3 separate regions of the Homo sapiens genome follow, and regions 1 and 2 are each linked to region 3. Evidence: fine-mapped expression QTL. A gene starts in region 3. Each other region holds a variant in brackets. All regions are shown on one strand. Distances are between the middles of the regions. Region 1 overlaps PIK3R5 (phosphoinositide-3-kinase regulatory subunit 5). Region 2 overlaps PIK3R5 (phosphoinositide-3-kinase regulatory subunit 5). Region 3 holds the start of PIK3R5 (phosphoinositide-3-kinase regulatory subunit 5).

Evidence for each region. PIP is the estimated chance that this variant, and not a neighbour inherited with it, causes the effect.
Region 1: its variant is fine-mapped to the expression of PIK3R5 in testis (GTEx, PIP above 0.99).
Region 2: its variant is fine-mapped to the expression of PIK3R5 in whole blood (INTERVAL, PIP 0.96).

Annotation. Positions count from the first base shown.
Region 1 is chr17:8,887,953-8,893,166 of GRCh38, forward strand. PIK3R5 (phosphoinositide-3-kinase regulatory subunit 5) reads right to left here. Exons shown (of 19, transcript NM_001142633.3): 7 at 2,786-2,960; 8 at 2,021-2,174; 9 at 1,187-1,270; 10 at 219-939. LOC124903922 (a long non-coding RNA gene) reads left to right here. Exons shown (of 2, transcript XR_007065613.1): 2 at 3,836-4,002. Among named protein-coding and RNA genes, the nearest start is that of PIK3R6, 23 kb to the left of the region's middle. RefSeq lists enhancers at 1-787, 788-1,596, 4,373-4,482. The variant T/C (reference allele first, on the strand shown) is at 2,636.
Region 2 is chr17:8,879,999-8,885,212 of GRCh38, forward strand. PIK3R5 (phosphoinositide-3-kinase regulatory subunit 5) reads right to left here. Exons shown (of 19, transcript NM_001142633.3): 15 at 4,709-4,785; 16 at 1,790-1,883; 17 at 1,632-1,714; 18 at 907-1,019; 19 at 1-788. The coding sequence ends at 641. It overlaps LOC124903919 (a long non-coding RNA gene), which reads left to right. Exons shown (of 3, transcript XR_007065610.1): 2 at 4,568-5,185. Among named protein-coding and RNA genes, the nearest start is that of PIK3R6, 15 kb to the left of the region's middle. RefSeq lists a silencer at 4,896-5,059. The variant G/A (reference allele first, on the strand shown) is at 3,186.
Region 3 is chr17:8,962,556-8,967,769 of GRCh38, forward strand. PIK3R5 (phosphoinositide-3-kinase regulatory subunit 5) reads right to left here and starts at 3,152. Exons shown (of 19, transcript NM_001142633.3): 1 at 3,041-3,152. PIK3R5-DT (PIK3R5 divergent transcript) reads left to right here and starts at 3,292. Exons shown (of 3, transcript NR_184080.1): 1 at 3,292-3,448; 2 at 4,212-5,214. RefSeq lists silencers at 3,076-3,395, 3,466-3,565.

The DNA.
Region 1 (5,214 bases), 75 kb before region 3:
ATCATGCCACTGCACTCCAGCCCGGGCAACAGAGCAAGACTCTGTCTCAAAATAATAATAATAATAATAATAATAATAATAATAATAATAATAATAAAATAAAAATAAATAAGGGAACTTTTGGTTCCTCTGGGGCCCTAAGCCTCAGGCCCCAGATTCCACCAGCACAACAACCCTGTTACCCAGGGCAGAGGGATGCTCCGCATTACGGCTCTTACCGAAGGTTGCTGTACGCCCGAGCCACCTTCCCTGAAATCCGATCGGAGCCAAAGACCACAACACGTAGCGTGGAAGCCTTGGGATCCTCATCTCCACTCAGGAAGGGGCGGCGGCGCTGGGGGCGTGAAGCAGGGGCCAGAAGCCAGCTGGGCAGCTGGGTACCGAGTTTGGGCTGGGGCAGGGAGCGGGAGCGCTGGGCCCGGGAAGGGGGTGATACTGGTTCGTCCAGGGGGCTGCAGAGGCTCCCTGCCCGCCTCAGGGGCAGGGCCGTGTCCGAGCTGCCCTCCAGGCTCCGAGAGTCCCTCCGCAGTACCAGCTGGCTGGTGCTCTTGAAGAGTTTATAGATCCTGATGAACTTCTGCCCAGGCCTGCGGTGGCCTCGGCGTTCCTGGCTGCCACGCCTCCAAGGCCACTCGGAGGAGCTCTCCTCGCTGTCCTCCACGTAGCCGCTGTCCATGCCATCAGAGAGGCCTGAGACAAAGGAAGTCAGCAGATGGCGCGAGAGGGCCGGCCCCGAGGCCTGGGAGGATGCAAGGGACAAGGTGGAGTCATGGGACGCCAAAGAGCTGGTGGAGAGCAGGGAATCTCTCTCGGCACAGTGCCCGTCAGTTTCCAAGTCCTCCTCCACCTCCTCCTCCTCCTCTTCCTCCTCTTCATCATCTCCCAGGATCCCTGGCTGGAGTAGCTCCTGTTCCTTGAGCAGGATTTCCTGCAGGATGTCTGCAGGGAAGCAAGGCCAGCACTGTCTGGGCGTCTGGGCCCCGGATCCCCTTCTATATTCCCTTTGGAGGGGAGACAGCAGGACTCAGGGCCAGCCCAGGACTCCTAGCACTGCCCCCTTGCTCTGCTTAGAGCCTGCTCATGTGGGAGAGCTTTGGGGACGGGGTGGGAGCTGCATGGACCCAGGACCAGAAACACAGCTCAGGCAGTGTGGGGCATGGGTGTCACCAGGGCCCCGGCTCCTTACCAAAGCTGTCCTGGCTCCAGCTGTAGGTGTAGCACCTGGCGACAGGGATGGGGATGGTGTGGAGCTTCCCTGGTTTTGCAGTGTCTGTAAGAACAGGGAGGATAGGAGAAGAGGGCTGGGAAGAGGCCTTGGAGATTGGCCAGTCCAGTCCCCTTGCCTTGGAGAAGAGACCAGAGATGGGACAGGATCGGCACAAGGATATGTAGCTGGATAGGCTGAGGCTGAGTTACAGCCAGGGTGCCAGGCTCCAAGCCAGAGGCCCTTCTTTCAAGCACACCATGTAGATGGCATGCCCTTTATGAGCTGTGCGAATGTGGCCAAACCACAACCTCTGAGCCTCATTTTACAATGTGCCCATGGGAGAATAATAGTACTAGCCCAGAAGGTTTTTATGAGGAATATTGTAACAGGGAATGCTAATGGTTCCTCAAAGTCTGTGCTCCCTTCTATGGTACTGGAGTCATAGAGACGATGTTTCCCAGGCTCCTTTGGGGCAAGATGTGGCCACGTGACCAAGGCGGGCTCAAAGGAACATGAGCGGAAGTGATGTGCCCAGCTTCTGCATCACCTTCAACAGAAAAGCCCAGCCTTTGCCCTCGTAAGCACTCTCTTTTCCTCTTCCCACAAGCTGCCATCATGATAGCACCCCCACCCTGCCCCTATAGACAGGAATGAGACACCCTAGGGGATGGCAGAGCAGTGAGATGCTGAAGAAGCTGAGTCCCTGAGTGACTGTGTGGAGCAGAGCCACCAGGCCCGCCTGGACCGTGCACCTTGGGACCTAGAATAGGCCATGGGGAATGTGGGAGAACCCCATTCTCCCAAGAGCCTCACCTAACACCCCAGGGAAGCCAGCTTTTTCTCCCACCGCCTGCAGCTTGGTCCTGAGCCACCGCCGGGCCTCTGCAGCATCCCCGATGCCAGATGCCAGCTCCTGTGCCTCTGCGGTCTCCGTGAAGATGTCCTCAAGCTCTGCCAGGGTCTTGGCCTGAAACCCCAGGAGGAGATGGGCTTTGCTCCTGGACCGTGAGCTAGCTGTCCACCTGTTCCAGTTGCTAGCTTCTTACTGAGGGAGGCAGTGATCTGTCCCCTCCCAGCCTCATCACCCATCTCCTACCCACAGCTGGCCAGGCAGCCAGGCCTCTCCCTGCCCTTCCATTCTCAGGAAATGGTCAGGAGAGAAAGATCCAGAGCCACGGCACTGCAGTTAGGAGGGACTTCAGCGCTCCTCACTGTACCCCATAGAGGGGAAGGAGCTGTGTGGGGTGACACAGCCGACCTGTGACACCTGTGACAGAGCCAGGCCTAGATGCCAGGTCTTCAGCCCAAAGCTCATTCTCGTTCTTATGGCATATGCCATCTTCTGAGGCACCAGTTATCAGCACCCAGTCCTACTGCCCAGGCTGCCACCCAGCTGGTTAGGATCCAGCACACCAGAAACACCCTCTA[T/C]GAGGTCAGCCCTCCAGCCACCACCCTGCCATGTCACCTGGGTGCAGGAGACTAAGTGTACCCTGGAGACCGTGGCTGAGATGAAGCAGGGAGAGGGTGCTACCTCCTCAGAGAGGTGCTCCACCAGAGCCCCAGGCCCCAGGTACATACCTGTAGCCTGCAGTGCAGGCCCGGGACGTCACAGTGGGCCCCAAAGGTGGCCTGGAAGGCGTGCAGGAGCAGGGTGGTGTAGGCACTGTGAGGCGAGTGTCCGGGCGTACTCAGCTTATTGGCTACAGCAAGGAACTCGGCCTGCACTTCCACTGGGTTCAGCAGCAGCACGGTGCTGGGGACACAGGGGACCGGCTATGGCACCCAGGGGTGCGCAGCATGCCACAGTGCAGCCACCCCCCTCGTGCCTGCTGGTGCTCAGCTCCACTGAGACCAGGGCCTCCTCAAGCCCAGGCAGAGCTCGAGGAGGTGACCACAGGAGGCCAGGACAGAAGCAACAGCTCCAGGGTCCAGGTTTCCAGGGGAAAGCGTGGGGTTCACTGCTGAGCATTTTTCAGCTGTTGTTTTCAAAGATCTTTTCAAAATTGAACTTAATTCTTTAAAACTAAATTTACTTAATTTTTATATAAACGTTTTTTCCTATGAGACAGCTGAGTGGATGCAAGATTACTCAAATGAGGATCATATTTTAGGCAAGGTGACTTGAAGCCAAGCGATCAGTTTTCAGGGGGAGCTGGACAGCAACGTGGTGCTGTGCAGTGTGGTCTGGGGCGAGCGGGACATGAAATTCCTCGTGCCGTGGGGCTGCATCTGCCCGGAGGAGGGGATGCCAAGTCAGAGTGCATCTTCTTCCTGAGCTTATGAGGGACACCTTTTCTAATCAGCCCAAAGCCATGATACAGGCTTTCACTGGCTGGGAGGGGACTGTGTGCCTGGCCACTGCTACCTCCCTTCCCGATGGATACCCAGATTCCCTCTTGGTGCCAGTGTTTACATTTCTTTATTATGGAACCTTTCTCTTTTTTTTTTTTTTTTGAGACGGAGTCTTGTTCTTGTCACCCAGGCTGGAGTGCAGTGGCACGATCTCAGCTCACTGCAAGCCCCGCCTCCCGGGTTCACACCATTCTCCTGCCTCAGCCTCCCAAATAGCTGGGACTACAGGCACCCGCCACCACGCCCAGCTAACTTTTTTTTTTTTTGTATTTTTAGTAGAGACAGGGTTTCAATGTGTTAGCCAGGCTGGTCTTGAACTCCTCACCTCGTGATCCACCCGCGTCGGCCTCCCAAAGTGCTGGGATCACAGGCGTGAGCCACCGCGCCCGGCTACTATGGAAACTTTCAAACATACCCCAAATTAAAAGAATCGTGGGCTCTGAGGCGCTGATCACTCTGTTTACAGTTAACAACGCACGGCTGTTCTCACTTCCCCCATGCCAACCCCTCCATCACTGCATGACCTCGAAGCAAATTCGAGCCATGGCGGCTTTGTATCCATAAATGCTTTAGTATGAGCTGCATGTGATGAGAGCTCTTGCTCTCTCAATTCCACACTGCGTTTAAACCCAGTGCAAAGGAGCACCACGCAGGGCAGCATTCCCTCCACACTCTGGGGACGTCGGTGCCCGGGGACAGGGCAGAGACAGGACTAGTCTCTGTCAAAGTCCCCATCATTTGGGAAGAAACTCACTTTGATTTCTCTATCTGTAAGAAAAAGGAGGTGGGCTTGTATAAGCAGCCCCTTACAACCTTGTAACGAGCCCAGCCGAGCCCCTGCCCTCACCAGCTTGCATAATTTCTCTCCCGAAGAATTTATCATCATTCTCAATTTACAGATAATGAAAGTGAGACCATCTCCCAACTGTAAGCTCTTTCTACAAATCTCTCGGTGCCTCACTTCCCTTATGTGAAAAATCCCTTTCTCACGGGGTTAACGTGAGGATTAAATGAGTCAGCACATGTAACCATGCTTAGGATGGTGCCTGGAGTCCGAATAAAGGTCTAAAGGGCTTTGATGATTCTTCATCAGCCCACCTGCCCCAGCTCCCCCAGAGGAATCTTATTTACTTACTAAACTACAACATTTTAGCATCCTTTCCCTCTGTCTCAACATCTATCATTTTGTTTGTGTTTGTTTTCACCTAGAGGGAAGTCAAGAAGTGTTGCTCAGGGGAGTGAGTGGGAAGTGAACCCCTGGGGCTGGGAATGAGGAGGGCCGGGGGCCTATAATTTCTGAGGTGGTGAAGGCCGGGGTCCCTGGGCTCCCAACATGTCAAGGTGAGACAGCACCCAACTCTTCAAGGCCTGCAGAGGGTCCTCCTAATGGGCACCCCCTCTCTAGTGCTTTTCAAACTGCAGGTCAGGACACAGGAGTGGGTAATGAAATCATCTGGGGAGCCAAATTTGTTTCTTAAATGAAATAGAATAGAACAGAGCTCATCCTATGTAACCAGGATACATTTCATTTCAGCTGTGTGTGTGTGTGTGTGTGTGTGTGTGTGTGTGTGTGTTTGTGTATCAGGCTGTCATATAAAATGGATTTTTCTTATAGGTCCTGGTCAAAAAAGTTTGGAAACACTGTTTTAGTAACA
Region 2 (5,214 bases), 83 kb before region 3:
GTGCCGGGTTCTGAGAGTAGACAGGTCCAGCGTTAGTGCTGTTTTTCTGGAGACTCAGGAAACTTGAGAGAAATTATTGAGGTGTGTGCGTGTGTGTGTGCGCATGTGCGTACATGCATGCCATGTGTGTGTGGTGTTTGCAGGGAGAGGTGGTCTTGAAGTAGAGAAATGTTTCATCCACATTTCAATCACCTGAGCCCCACAGAGGAGGGGACTGAACTCCAGACATACAGGGTCCTCAAGTCTTTGGCAAAGTAAGGGGTAGGCTCAGCCAAGGTTGAGAGAAAAGGCCCAAGCCATCCCCCTGAGCACCAGAGCCTCAGATCTTCCTTCTAGAAAGGATCCTAGACCATGCTAATGGTCAGGGACTTCAGAGGTCAATTTACCCATCCTTCTCCTTCTACTGCCAGGAATCTAAGAGGCTATGGGGTCTGGCCCTTCTCTCTCTGATAGCTGTTGCTTTCCCAGAACCCTGAGGCCCCAGAAACCCTCTACTCCCAGCCCCTGCTCATTGCAGGACCCACAGTGGGACTATGGCTCTGCACAGGGCCATTCAGTTCTCCACAGAGAGGGACTGTCCTGGAGGGGTGGCCGAGGAGGTTGCCCCAGGGCTTCTGTCCAGTCTGGCGCTGGGCCCACACTAGGGCAGAGCTCCACTGAAAGTCATGATGGGCAGGCAGAGAAGGGAGCAGAGATCAGGTGCGGCCTGGGCCGGCAGGTCAGGAGGCGTCTGGGGTGGTGAGGAGAGGTCGCTCTTCTCTGGCTTGTAGCACGGTGAGACCTCACATCTGTGCAGCAGGGCAGGGGCCAGGGATCAGAGCAGGCCCCCATCCTTCCAGCTCCTTCCAGGCCTCTGGGTTGGTGGGAGCAGAAACTGCTCCCCTCCCTAGGACCCCCCTTTCCTACCTGACTACACTCTGCAGGATCTTTCTCTCATCCTGGTCCAGGCACACAGCAAAGGGGCAGCTGTTGGAGCCGATGATCTGCACCTTGTCCACTTTGATCTGCGATGTGCTAATCTGGAAGGAAGGCCCAGGTCAGCCCCAAATCCCTGGCCATCCAACACTGCCAGCCCCTGGCAGTTCCTTTTCTCAGAACTGCCCATCCACTTCTAGGGGTGTGGGAGGGCAGGGGTTTGTCTGACTGCGCTCCAGGGTTAATGGCCAGGTCACAGGAGGGAGCCTGAGGCCTCCATCAGCCCCTGCCTCCTCTCCAGCATCTGGAAGAAGCAAGTGCCCCCTGAGGAGACATTGCCCTGCCTGCTGCCCTCACCGGAGCAGCCCCAGGTCCCCTGATCCAGAGCCTGCTTTCTTTGGTCTCAGAGTCTTAGGACTCTCCTGGCACCCACCCCACAACTTTTCCACATACACGCGTCCTCTCACAGGGCACCCCTACCTCCCCGACACCCCGCAACACTCCACACCTGTGTGCATCCCCAAATCATACCCCTCACCCTGCCTCTCCTCCCCCACCTCTCCTCTCTCTCTCACACACACACAAGTATGTACACACGGGTGTGTATGTGCACACATGCACACACATACATGTGCACACACACGTACACACATACGCACATGCACGCTCCAGTAAGTCTCTTGAGGGTATGGCTGGAAGGAGAGGGAAGCCCGTACCTGGTTAAAGCCCTTCTTGGATTTGGAGTTCTGCCTTTTCACCACTTCTGTCAGGTTTAGCGTCAGGGCCTCCATGCTGGAATCTGAGGGGCAAGGACACTCAGGCCAGGCTCAGAGCACCTCCCTACTGCACACCCCACACTGACCACCCCACTCACCCAGCTCCTCCTGCTTCCGGCAGGCCTTGTTGAGGTTCACGGAGGTACAGACCTTCTCCAGGTTGCTCCAGCGACTTCGTCCACTGATGGCCCCCTGGAAATGCAGTGTAGCCAGACCCTCTGAGTCCAGAGGCCCCGGTGCCTGCTGCCTTCTCTTTGAAGGCCCATCAGTGACAGGGGGTTGCCTCTAGTTAGCATATCCCCAGAAAGCCCTCTCTTATTCACCAGGGCCCCTGTACCACCCTGGATAGACCTGGATGACTCCAGGGAAGAGCTCACGTCACTGGCTTGGTCTAGGGGTCAGCAGCCTCTGTGACCAGGTTGAAAGGTACAAGAGCTGAGAGCACCTGCAGGGGTGGTCCTGAAGCTCTCCTGCCGGGCCCAGAGTGAAGAAGGGTTGGGCCCACAGACATGCTGTTTCTGGCAGAGCCAGACCTGAACCCCCTCTTCAAGTCTTTGTGTGAATGTCTCTGTCATCAGGGACCTCCATGTTGTTAAACCGAAGAACACTTCTTGGTCCTCAGCTTACTTGACCTTACAGTTCACTGCTCTCCCCTCCTTGAAAACCTCTCCTGGGCTTTCGTGATGGCACCTTCCTGGTTTTTCTAGCGCCTCTCTGGCTGGTGCCTCTCTGCTTTGCTGGATCGCTGCCCTCTGCCCGCCATTACATCATGAAGGGCTCAAGGTTCTCCCCTTGGTCCTCTGCTCTTTGTATTCCCTGCTTCCCCCCTTCAGGAGTCTCCTCCGTGACCTTTTTCCATTAGCAGCTGTCCACCCATCTTCATATTCACCACAAAGTCAGGCCCGTTCAGCCAGCCGTCTATTCTCACTGTCTCCTTATACCTCTCAAGGCCTCTCAACCTCAATAATATGTCCCGACCCAAACTCAAGCTCTTCCCCAACTGGACCCCGGCCTCTTCCTGTGGTCCCCCCAGAGAAGATGGTGCTGCCAGTCACAGAGGAGTGACTCCAGGAGTCTGGCCTCTCCTTTCCTAACCCATCCATGGGCCCTGCTGATTACATCACTCACATCTGTCTCCCATTCCTTTCCAGCTCTGCCACCACTACCCTAGTGCAGGCTGCTGCCCTAATTTCTCTTCTGGACCATGGCAACAGCCTCCTAACTGGCCTTCCTGCATCACTTGTGGACCCTTCCTATCTGTCCTCCACAGAGCTGCCAGAGGGAGCTTCCAAGCCTCAGATATAATCATGTCACAGGCATTCCCAGCCCCACCACAAACATAAGCCCCCTTAATGGATATCCACTGCTCTTAGGACTAGGATAAAATTCCTTTCATTGGGTCGGGCGTGGTGGCTCATGCCTGTAACCCCAGCACTTTGGGAAGCCAAGGCAGGTGGATCATGAGGTCAGGAGTTCGAGACCAGCCTGGCCAAC[G/A]TGGTGAAACCCCGTCTCTACTAAAGATACAAAAAATTAGCCGGGTGTGGTGGCGGGCACCTGCTACCCAGCTACTCAGGAGGCTGAGGCAGGAGAATTGCTTGAACCAGGGAGGCGGATGTTGCAGTGAGCCAAGATTGAGCCATTGCACTCTAGCCTGAGAAACAGGGCGAGACTATGTCTCAAAAAAACAAACAAAAAACCACAAAACTCCTTTCATTGCAATTAAGGCTCTTGGTATGCTGGTCCCCCATTTCTTTAGCCTCACCTCAGCATCATGTTCCCACCAGCTGTCTCTGCTCCAGCCTGGGGGTCTTCTTTCAGAGTGCTTCAAGGTGTTCACACTGCCTCCCACCACAGGGCCTTTGCACATGCAGTTTCTGCTGCTGTGAGAGCACTCACCTCTCTTCTCAGCCTAATTAATTCCTGGTTTTCCCTCCAATATTAACTCAGGTGCCTTCTCAAGGAAGCCTTCACTACTAACTCTCCTGACTGGGTTCGGTTTGCCACTTAGGAACATCCCGTGTCCCTCTCCTCATCCATGTGTCACAGTTGTAATTTTACATCGTGTGCATCATCGAACCAATGCCTACCACCCACTCCAGGGGGCCAGCAGGTCTCCTGGGACCACGTCTGTCCTTTGTTCACTCTTAGGAAGGCTCCAGGGCCTAGAACAGTGCCTGGGCTGTGGAAGACGTCTAGCAAGCACCTGGCATGTGGCTACAGTGAGTGTCGGTGCCTCCTGCCCACCTCCTTCACTGCCAAACGCACTGCAGCCCCAACACCACCGTCCATCTGCTGTTTTATTGCTTTGTCATCACTTGCCGCTCTCTGGAATTATCTTGGCTATTTCTTTGTTTCCTCGTTTCTTGTCTGTCTCCCTCCTCTAGACAAGCTAAAGTGAGGCCTAGGCTTCCCTGCTCAACCCCTCTTTTCCCCTGCCCAGCACAGAGGCAGCATGGGCAGGTGCTAAGAGGATATCTTTGGAATGGCCGAAGGAAGAAGCCCACCTGTGAGGCCAAGCTTCCCTCAGCCTGGACCTTGGGATGCGACCTGCTCAGAGAACTCATGTCTTCTGGCATGTCATGGACAGCCCTCCACCTCCCCACAGCTCTCCTCACTCCTTTCTCACGCCAATCCCATCTTGCATGCAGCCTGCCAGGCACACTGGCCCCCCGAGACCCTGGCTTCTCCCTGAGGTGCCTCTGGAAGGCTTCCCTTTCCCCCTTTCAGCCCCAGCCCTGTAGCCAGGCCCAGCAGACCCCTACCCCTGGGCTGCTGCTGAGCGCATTCGGGTGGGGGCAGAGAACATGGTGGGAGAGAGGCTTTGGAGGCCAAGAAGCACAGAGATATCCACTCCTTCCCTTCTCTGCTTCTCTCAGCATCCAGGGGAGCCTGCTGCAGCCTTCCAGCGTAAAGACTGGGGCCCAGGAACACACGAGTCCAGCTCTGGGTCCAAGCTCTGGCGGAGGAAGTATCAGCAGCAGATCCTGGAGGGGAAGGAGCCCCAGCACGGGTCTTACCTTGCTGTAAATAATCTGTAGTGTTAGAGGAACAGCCTCCCGGTCGCCATCGATGCCCAGCCGCTTGCTGCCAGGACCTGTGCCACACACAGACAGACCCTTCACTACCCCTGGCTTCCCCGGCTCCTCACGAACGCAGTGGCCTTGCCTCCCTGGGCCTTACCTCCCCATCCCCTACCACATGGACCGTGACTCCCTAGGGATCTGTCTCACCAAGGCCCTGCCTCTCTCTCTGGCTCCACGTTCTGGGGATCTCCACCTCCTCAGTGACCCCATCACTCCAGGGCCCATCTCCGCTGTGATCACACATTCCCAGGGTCCTGCCTCTCCAGGGCCCCATCTCCGCTGTGATCACACCTTCCCAGGGTCCTGCCTCTCCAGGGCCCCATCTCCGCTGTGATCACACCTTCCCAGGGTCCTGCCTCTCCAGGGCCCCACCTCCTGGGTAACCCTGCCTCCCCAGGGCCCACCTGCTGGGTAAGCCTGCCTCCACCTGGCCCGACCTC
Region 3 (5,214 bases):
TCGCTAACACATCCCCCAAATCTATAAAAAGTGCACTGTATTTAATAGAATCTAAGATGCCATCAATTGTAAGATGCACCGTTATTTTGTGTGGCAATAAGGAAGAAATATTGTTGCCTATTATAATTGGAAGATGCCATAAACAGTAAAATGCACCTTGATTTCAGTGAAATTCATACAATTAGCACATTCAGTGCTAAAATGTGAAAATATGTACATCTTCAAATTGATGAAATATTTTACTATGTAATATATGTTTGCTACGGGAGGGTATCATCTTCCCTTTGGGCAGAAGTCAGATGTACTCTTTCCTTTCTCTCCTCCCACCCCATCTATATCTGAGGCTCAAAAATCAAATTAAACACCTCTCCCTTGACTTGTTAAGGATCACTCTATCTTCTTCTTCCAGGAGCTTTCTCTGTTTTTTAAATTTTATTTTTTGTTTTTGTAAAGACAGGGTCTCACTCTGTTGCCCAGGCTGGAATGCAGTGACACGATCATAGCTCACTGCAGCCTCGAACTCCTGGCCTCAAAGCCTTGGCTTCCCAAAGTGCTGGGATTATAGGCATGAACCACTATGCCTGGCCAGCTTTCTTTCTTAACACATTGGTTCAGGCTTTTAGCTCACCAGCTGAGGCCAAACAGGCATTCTGGTTCTCAGAGGTCCCACAGGGCCACGCAGCTCAGTCCCTTGGGATGAGCATCTTTGAAGAAAGGCCAAGTCAGCACAGCTTGAGTGCTCAGTGGAACCCAAGCTGGGGCTTCCAAACTCTAGGCTACCCAGGCAAAAAGGATCCTGGCTCTCCTCCTCTCCCACTCCTCAGCCAGCAGGCCCCTGATGGATGGCTAACACAGGGGTATGGAGCAGCCTGCACCCCTGCCTTCTCATCCTCATGCCAACATCAACCCCAAATGCTCTTGTCACCCAGTGCCACCAGTTAGCATCCAACCTATTCTTCTTCTTCTTCTTCTTTTTTTTTTTTTGTTTGTCTGTTTGCTTGAGATAGGGTCTCTCTGTGTCTGCCAGGCTATAGCGCAGTGAAGCGATCATAGCTCACTGCAGCCTCGAACTCCTGGGGTCAAGCAATCCTCCCACTTAAGCTTCTCGAGTAGCTGGGCAACCTGTTATTCTTGAGGGCAATAATCAACAGTGAATGGGAGGGAGGAAAGGCAAGCAGGGAGGCAGAGACTGTCTGCTTCTACTGCAGCCTGAGGAGGGAAGATAATGAATCATCCCTCTCGTAAGCTAGAGATGAAAGGAGGGAGGTTCTTAAAACCCTAATGAGGCTCAGCACACAAAGACCCCAAGCCTTCCTGCCCTCACAGTCCTGGTTTGTGAGGCTTCAAAAAGCAGGGGAGGGAGCCCTGAAGCAAGAAAGTAGCTTGACCATCCAAAACTGTCTTCTTTGTCTTCCACGGGTCCACAGGCAAAGACCCACACCACCACAGCCACAACGAGGAAACACGGAAGCCAGCGTTCTACAAACATCCACGGAGCATCTCCCACGTGCAGCCGTTCTCATCATACATGCCTCACTTAATTTTCCACACTGGGCCAGGCACAGTGGCTCATGTCTATAATCCCAGCACTTTGGAAGGCCAAGGTAGACGGATCGCTTGAGCTCAAGGAATTTGGGACCAACCTGGGCAACATGGCAAAACCCTGCCTCTACAAAAAATACAAAAATTAGCTGGGCGCCGTGGTGCTGACCTGTAATCCCAGCTACTTGGGAGGCGGAGGCGGAGGATTGCTTGAGCCTGGGAATTTAAGGCTGCAGTGAGCCATGATCACGCCACTGCACTCCAGCCTGAGTGACAGAGCAAGACCCTGTCTCAATAATAATAATAATAATAATTCCACACAGCTCTATGGGTCAGTATGACAGCCCATTTTATGAATCAGGAGACTGAGGCTGGGTTGGGGGACAGTGTGATGCTGCAGGTCACACAGCTGGATCCGGTTGGAACTTGGGTCTCTTTTCCACATCATGCATGGTTCCCAAGCAACGGCTTCAGCATCATCACTTAAGGAGCTCATTCAAAGTTTTGAAAACTACAGATTCCAGATCCCATCCCTGGAAAGCCACGTTGTAGGGTTGGCTCCAAGAGAGCCCTACCTGCAGTCAGCTCTGGGAGCCAGTGCCTTACAGGTGGTCCTGAGGGCAGGAAGGAAAGTGTGGGGTGGATGAGAAGACACAGAAGGAAAACGAGGGTGTCAGTCCAGAGAGGACCTTGGAGGCAGGCTTGGCCTACTTTTAGCCCTTATTCTGCCTAAACCCACCCCTCCTCTCTACTCCGAGTCTTGTTAACTCGCTTTATACCACATCCTGCTGCTTTAACCTCGCCTTCCTTTTCCTTCTGAACAATCTCCTTCCTCCTACTGACCTGAACTTTTTGTGTATTTACCCCAGGCCGGGATGGGCCAGCACGCGCACATGCGCATGCCCACACACACACACACACACACACACACACGAGTCACGCGGGGATGTCCAGTGTGTAAACACAGATCCTCTGAGAGCAGAAAGCGTGCAGTTCTCTAGGACAGCAGCCGCGTCTGGGCCCAAGGCTGGCTAACTAGCAGGCTGAGTGAGGCTCGACGGAGGGCGCCTTACGCGGGCACTTCCATGACTCCCAGGTTCTGACGGCACAAGAGCCCTGATGCCCACGCTCACGGACAGTTCCCCGCTGGAGCGGGCAGGGGACCTGACCCTACGACACAGGGCGTCCTGTGTCAGAGGCAGGAGGCTGAGGACACAGCTGCGCAGAGCCGCCCAGCAGAGGTTACCCGGATAACGATAAGTGGTCCCCGCGACGCCCCTTAAGTCTCTGGGGTTATCTGGAGCGCAGGTTTGCAGACCCGCTGCCCCCGCGGTGGGCCAGGTCCACGGGGCCGGAAGATAGCAGGATCTGTCCAGCCCTCGGGCTGCGGCGGCTGCTCGCGGAGCCCACTCTCCCCGACGGTCCCCAGCTTGCTCCAGCTCTGCCTGGAGCTCCCATGCGTGCCCTCCGCATCCGCCCTGGCCGCCCAGTCACACACCTGCAGTCCCCGCCGGGCGCCGAGCCCCTCTCCAGCGGCGACTCCCTGCGATTCGGGTGACCGTCGGGACCACCGCGCCCCAGCTGGAGCCGCGCGGCGAGCCGCAGCATCTGCCCAGCCTGGGCTCCTCCGGCGGGCGGGGCGGAGCCTGTCAGGGGGCGGGGCCTAATGGGGCGGGGCTGACCGCGGAGCCGGCCTCTCCAGCCACCTGGCGGCCCGGCAGCGTCAGCCAGGTGCGCGCCCGGCCCCACATCCTCTGGGTCACGCCCCCGAGGCCGCAAGGCGTCTGAGAAGCAGCCCCGGCTCTGACCCGCCAGCCCTCGGAAGAAGCAGACCCTGGCCGGTCCATGGCAGTGGCCCGAGGGGCACCAGCGCGGAGCACCAGCGACCCCCAAGGAGTAAGGGGAGGTTAGGCCCCCGCGTCGGAAGCGCGGCTTTGGCCCCGCAGGAGGGCTGGGCGGAGCAGGGGGGCAGGTCTGGGGTAGGGGCTTAGGGGAAAGACGAGAAAGAGGAAGCTCCGACGAGCTGCTTCCTTCTCTCACTGCGACCCACTTCCTCTTCCTACTTCTATTTTCTTTCTTTTTTTTTTTTTTTTTTTTGAGATGGAGTCTCGCTCTGTCGCCAGGCTGGAGTGCAGTGGCACGATCTTGACTCCCCACAACCTCCGCCTCCCGGGTTCAAGCGATTCTCCTGCCTCAGCCTCCCGGGTAGCTGGGACTACAGGCGCGCGCCACCACGCCCAATTTTTTGTATTTTTACTAGAGACGGGGTTTCACCATGTTGGCCAGGATGGTCTCGATCTCTTGACCTCGTGATCCGCCCGCCTCGGCTTCCCAAAGTGCTGGGATTACAGGCGTGAGCCACTGCGCCCGGCCCCTACTTCTATTTTCTTTGGGTGCCCTTAACCCTTAAAATGCCTGCACTACTGCTGTGCAGACGGGCACCTTGACCCGCATCCTTCTGCAGGAACCTTCATAGAAATACCAGCCAGTCCCGGCGTTCAGCACTGCTGTTCCAGCCTCTGGCTGGACTTCCCGCCCTCCCTGGCCGGCACCAAGGCTACTGTCACCTGAGTGGTTTCCCCAGCCCCTGGGGAAGGGAGTGAGGGTGTGCGGGAGTTCCTGCCTCCAGGGTCAAGGCCCTCTTCTTGCCTCCCCCTTTTCTCCCCCAGACGACGTTGCAGATGATGCTCTACCAAGAGTTGGAAGGACTCCCCAGGGAATCCCACAAGACACTGCGCTTCCTATGCCTCCTTTCCCTCGTTTAAAAAATGGGGATAAGAAGGTTGGCTACTGCTCCGACAGCCCTCACAATGGAAGAGTAGCACTTCATTTGTGGGTTAACAAAGGGCAACGCTGAAATCTCCACTTCCACTATTGAATGGAACTGTGTCATAATATCTGTTAGAGGCGTGCAAACTCGGCCACAAGGTCATGGTCATACGTTATTGTTGGTCAAAAGCCGCAGCCCTACCTGAGGCTTTGAGAGATATGAACACCAATGACTTTTCTTTTCCTGACTCCCGAAATACCAAGAAAAAGCAACTTCCCCAAATGGACAGAAACAGAAAGTACCCTTGGTTGAACACAGAGGCCTGGTTCCAGCCATCGTTAGACGTGGGAAGGAACTCAGACCCCCTCTCCTACCTCATCCCCAACCCCTTCCCCACACGTCACCCTTTCACAGAGAAGGAACCAGAGCCACCAAGGGCTGAGAGAGGACTTGATAAGGATTCCAGTCTTCTGTCTCCCCTGTCCCCACTTTTTCCACCACAAAAATATGGACATTTGGAAGAAGAGGAGAAGAGGGAAGGTACACACTGTGCAAAGGAAGAAAATGGCAGAAATGCTCTGGAATCAGGAATTCAGGAGCAAGAATGACACTGTGTGCCAGATGGAAATGTTGGATTAGGAGAGCACTTGGAAAGGCAAATAATCTGCCAGAGAAATTATGGGATGCCTGCCTTCTGAAAATGGAGGAAAACTGCAAAAGAGTGGCTCATTGGTGCTCACTCCTAGGGCTCTGAGCATCCCAAGAAGCCAACTTGGTCCCATCGTACATCCCCTCAGAAGTAGGCATTCTCCTCTCCACCTACAGCTGTGGCCCAGATGTGGAGCCTGCATGTTATGCCACGCCGTCAACACTGAGTTCTGTCTGCGTCTCCCTGTCACAGA